Linked DNA regions of Homo sapiens: region 2 is linked to region 1. A link means that fine-mapping ties the variant in region 1 to the expression of a gene that starts in the linked region. Tissue or cell type: lung. Region 1 holds a variant in brackets; the other region holds the start of a gene. All regions are shown on one strand. Distances are between the middles of the regions.

Region 1 (2,677 bases):
CCTACAGGGTAGCCTCCCCTTTCCCTGGCCCTGGTGACAGCTTCCTGCCCTCATCCATCAAGCCCACCCTGTGGCCAGCCCTGGGGCTTTGCCACCCCCAGTGGGTTTCCTTGTGGCTACCTGGTGTGTGTGTAGCCTGGGTGGCTGGGTCCAGTAGGAATCAAGACTGAATGACCCCCCCTACCCATGGAGGGTATGGGCTAGGAGCAAAGACAGGTGCTATGTTCTGAATGTGACTGCAAAATTCTTGTGTTGAAACTTAGTCACCAATGCAATTGTATTAAGAGGTAGGGTCTTTATGAGGGGATTAAATCAGGAGGATGGAGCCCTCATGGATGGGATTAGGGCCCTTATATTATAAGAGGGATTGAGGGAGTGGTTTTGCTCTATTCTGTTCTTCCACCATGTGAGGACCCAGCAACAGAGGGCCATTTTGTGAGCAGAGAGCAGCCCTCACCGGACATCAAACCTGCTGATGCTTGATCTTGGACTTCCCAGCCCCCAGAACTGTGGAAAGTGAATTTCTGTTATTTATAAATTGCCCAGTCTGTGATATTTTGTTATAGCAGGACTAAGACAACAGTCAATGAACAAATGATTCTATGAAGGAGAAGAAAACACAAAGATGATAAAACTAGGCTGTTTCTGTCACTTGCTGATTAGATGGACCAGCTGGGTGGAGAACCCAGCAGCAGCTGGACCACTGTATTGTGAGCTTCCAACACAGGGAAGCCCTCTACCTTGGGCATTTCTGTGTTTCCCACACAGTGTTGCTCCCAGGGGCAGCCCCAGTGCCTTCTGGCTGGGGATTGGCATCTTTGGGAGGGCATGGACCATGGCTGCCCCATTGCTGCTGGGGTCCTGGTACATACTGGCACAAATAACGTGCTAGTAGCTCCTTGGAAGAATAAACTCTTCCCTCTTCCTGTCTGCAGTCTGTTAACTCACCCCCTCTCTCTGCCAACTGGGACTGTGATCACATCGCAGACACCCATAGTCTAGCCTGGGGTAGAATGGAACAAGCCACGTGAGG[G/T]GCCATGAGTCAGCTCACCCCAACAGATTCAAAATCTTGGCCAGAGGAGAGCAGCTGGAAGTGGGAGCTAGTGTCAAGCATCAGTGACAGGCATGGAGAGGTGCAGCCCACGGCAGCAGGACTGACAGGCCTCTGGAACAGACCAGGCAACACGACGCCCCCATGTGATCTCTACCTGGGATCCCCCTCATGGCTCTCTGCCCACACTGGATACTCACAGGAATGAGCACTACCTGGCTGCAGCACCCCCTCCAGGTCACCATCTGGGTCCACCCATTACAGCATCGGCGCTGGAGACGGGCACGTGCTGGTCCGTGCAGATTCCACTCTTCTCTATTCCACTGAAGGCAGGGGCAGTCCCCTCCTGGAGGTTGGGATTGGGTTTGGGGGCAGTTTGGAGCTTGTCTGGCAGCTTCTCTGGCAGAGCAAGGCCACATCTGCCCTGAAGTTAGGAGCCAGTCTCTGAAGACTCTCCGTAGGCCCTATGCCACCCGTTCTCTCAGGCCTAGGTGGGTAAGAGGTGCCCTAAATAGGGACTGATTGGAAAGTGGATGATGGCAGAGCCAGCAGCCAGGAGGGGGGTCCATTGGCTGATGGCTTCCCTTTCACCAGTGGCTCCTTCTTTTTCTAAATGGGCACCCCCATCCATCCCCAAGCCATGGAGGACATTGAAGGCAGCCTTAAACTGTCCCTTCCTCCTCTGCTGGGGCTGGCAGCCACCCAGGTAGGCTCCCTCCTTGACAAGGCTGTGCCCCCTGAAAGGGCATCCTTAGAGCCCTGCTCCTGATGGGGAAGCCAAGCACTTCTGTGGACAAGAGCCCTGGAAGGGAAGGGTGAAGAGTCGGCCTTGGGTGGAGGCTCAGCTGCATGCCTTTCCAGGGGGTGTTGGCCTAGGGAGCGGTCCCGTCCTTACCTGGGCTAGGTTCCCAGGCTGCCCTGTGAATTCACACGTCCTCCTCGCCCCTACACAGCCAGCACCAAGGGAAATCAGCCCCAGGCTATGGTGACAGGAAGTCCCCCTTCCCGCTCCTGCAGATGCTCCTGGGATGGCGCCAGTAATCTCAGCTGAGATAAATTCCCAGGCAGAGGATGGGCCTGAGGGACAAAGGCCGCCTGGAGCAGGAACGGAGCTAAAGCAATAAGGAAAGGCATAATGGCCCCGCACTTTTAATTTGTGACTAATTTGTTGCACAATGAGGTTGCAATTTTCTAATTGTGATTGCCATTTTAATTTTACTCATGGCTGTGCAACCAACAATGTATAGTCTAGTAATTAAAATTAATTGTACCTTCACCTGCATATTTCTATTAGGCTGTTAAATTTAGTCTGTAAGCTCAATGATTCTGTTCCCTGAAAGATGCCGAATTCATTTCACTGAGCCTGATTCTGCCACACTTGGTAACTCCCCACTCTGAAGGTGGCCTTGCCTTCTGATGAGGGGACGGGGCCATCTCTGCCCCAACCCCTTGGCTCTTGGCAGGCTAGGGGAGCTAAGCTGTCAAGGGCTTTAGCTGAGCCTACAAGTCTATTATTTGTTACACTTCTAATGAGTTATTAGGTTCTTAAATTGTATGTAGGGATTTCATGAATAATCTTGGAAGACACAAATGGGCTTTCTCCACCAAGTTAAGTCCATGTATGAC
Region 2 (2,677 bases), 490 kb after region 1:
AATCACTTGAACCCGGGAGACAGAGCTTGCAGTGAGCCGAGATCATGCCACTGTACTCCAGCCTGGGCAACAGAGCGAAACTCCGTCTCAAAAAAAAAAAAATTAGCCGGGCGCGGTGGCGGGCGCCTGTAGTCCCAGCTACTCAGGAGGCTGAGGCAGGAGAATGGCGTGAACCCAGGAGGCAGAGCTTCCAGTGAGCCGAGATCACACCACTGCATTCCGGCCTGGGTGACAGAGCAAGACTCCGCCTCAAAAAAAAAAAAAGAAAAGGTGGGGGGCGTCTCACTATGTTGACCAGGCTGGTCTTGAACTGCTGGCCTTAAGCGATCCTCCTGTCTAGGCCTCCCAAAGTGTTGGAATTACAGGAGTGAACCATCGTGCCTGGCTAATAATTCCTTTTAAAAAGCAGCTTACCCTTATTTTCACGTGTGGGCCTAATTTAGTTCACTTAAAAAAATCATTTATCTTCACCCCAGCCCTATGAGGCAGGCACTGCCGGTCCTGGTCTGTGGTAGAGGGGAGGGCAGAGGAGCCGTGAGGGTGACCAGGCGCTGTGGGTCGGTGCTGGGTCCAGTCAGACCAGGACTCCTGGCCAGTCACGGCACCTTGACCCCGGCAGTCCTCGCCCTGGGCGGTGAGCACCACACACAGGGCTTACGCGAGCACACACGCATATGCACGCACCGGCAGCCTTGGGCTGAGCCGGCTGTCAGCCTCTGCCCTGCTCCAGCTTGGACCAGGCTGGCTCCTTGCAGGACCAGGAGGGTGTCCGGCGACTGGACACGGAGACCAAGCCTCCCTCAGCCCCGCCTGGGTTTGAAGGCTGCTGCACTCGACCCCAGACCCCAGAGCTGAAGGTTTACCTGTGCTCAGCCCCTGAGCCCCCGCCTCCCGCTGGTCCCTAAGCCCCCCCGGCAGGGCCGCAGAGCCACAGCTGCAGCGGCTCCTGGGAGGCTGGGAGCTCCTCAGAGGCCCACACAGCTCTAACTCCTACAAGCCCCTGATTACAGTTCAACTCCCGGATCAGCCGATCAGGTAACATGGCTGGAGAAACCCATGACTCAGCAATCTGTAGGTAAATAATTGAACTACAGAGTCCAGGGCACAGACCACTGCCTGCAGGTTGGCGCCACCACCCCCACTCTCCCCGCTGCTCGCGGGAGCCAGAGGGCCCTGCGGTCCTCGGTGGTCTTGCCAGCCCCTCGTCATCCCAGGGCCCTCCGCGCCTGTGAGGACTCCCTCAGGTAAGAACCATCCTGGGCCCAGATCTCAGCTGCAGCAGAGGGGGGCGTGGGAGCCGAGGCCAGAAATGCCCTGGACTCGTGGTTTCTTAGGGGCACCCTCAGGCTCAAGGCAGGTGGCCCTACTGTCCCCATTCCACACACCTGGACCCCAGGGGCTTGGGGTGGGCTTCAGGGCATCCAGGGACCCAGTGTGGTGGGGTCTTCCAGGGAAGGGGACACAACTCTTGCAATGTTGCCTGAGGGCCAGGACCCCCGCTCTGTGCCCCAGGGGTGCTGTGCCCAGCCTGCATGTGTCAACCTACCAGGCTGGGCTCACTGCCCCAACACACCCGCCAGGAGACTGGAGCTCGCACACCCTGGGCCAGCGTGCAAACAGCAGGCTCAGCCCAGGCTCCAGGGTGTCCTGGGCACCTGGTGTCCTGGGAGCAAAGTCTTTGCCTAACGTCGCTGAGAAGAATGTTTAAAGTGAAAGTACATTGGAGTCTGCAAACAGGACAGACCCGAGGCCTCACGTGGGACCAGTCAGGCCTCTAAGCACCGCCTCCCTAACGCCACGGTGTTTTCCGAGATCAAGGGAAAGGTCAGGTGCCCTTCCGGCTCTGCCGGCCCAGGGTGACTGTGTGCAGCGGGCTGGGCCCTCTCGGTGCTGCCTCGGGACAGTGTGTCATGGCCGTTCCACAGTGAGCTGGTGCAGCCTGGGAAAAAGGGCGCCTCACGTCCCAGAACTGTCTGGGCAGGGGAGACAGACGCCAGTCACCCTCCTCCCCTCCCAGCTGGCCCTGATGGGGCCCCCGTCCAGGCATATTCTCAGAATTCTGTCCCAAGTCCAGGCGGATGGGCTAGGCTAGTGTCTGAGTGCTGCTCCCCCAGCAGACTTGGGGTCCCAGTACCCACAAAGCTTGGCAGGGACATAGGAGGCCTCTTCCTGAGACTTCCGCCAGCCCCAGGACCCACAGGGCAGGTGACAGAGGGGTGGGTGGAGGTGTCTCCAGGAGAGCAGGCGATGGTTTGGATGGGGGAGGGAGGGCTCTGGTGTGGGCATGGGGTGGACAGCAGGACCGTTTGCCAACCTGGGGAGCCAGGGAGGTGGACACGGAGCAGCTGGACTCAGGCTTGCCTGCACCTGTGTCCAGTGACTGTGACATTCTGACGGTAGGCACATGTGCGTGGTGGCAGCCCAGCCTGTTCCTGCCCCGTTGGGGAGGTGAGCTTCAGGAGGCTACAGGGTGGTTTTCAGCCAGGAACCGCAGAGCCAATAGGCCGGAGCTGAGCCTGGACAGGGTGCCGCCACGCCGCCCCTCAGCACTGCTGGCCTCAGCACACCCCATGGCATGGGCTTGGTGTCGTAATCCCATCTCACCTCACGATGGATTCTGGATCCAGCAGGGCCCAGCGTCCATCCATACCGGGCAGGGGGCTGGGGCCCGCGCTGC

The links. PIP is the estimated chance that this variant, and not a neighbour inherited with it, causes the effect.
Region 2: it holds the start of SLC26A1, and the variant in region 1 is fine-mapped to the expression of SLC26A1 in lung (GTEx, PIP 0.95).

What each region holds. Positions count from the first base shown.
Region 1 is chr4:1,478,316-1,480,992 of GRCh38, reverse strand. No RefSeq gene overlaps it. Among named protein-coding and RNA genes, the nearest start is that of NKX1-1, 73 kb to the right of the region's middle. The variant G/T (reference allele first, on the strand shown) is at 1,034.
Region 2 is chr4:991,868-994,544 of GRCh38, reverse strand. It overlaps SLC26A1 (solute carrier family 26 member 1), which reads left to right and starts at 1,141. Exons shown (of 3, transcript NM_022042.4): 1 at 1,141-1,244. All of the region lies in intron 2 of IDUA (alpha-L-iduronidase), which reads right to left. RefSeq lists enhancers at 181-992, 993-1,804.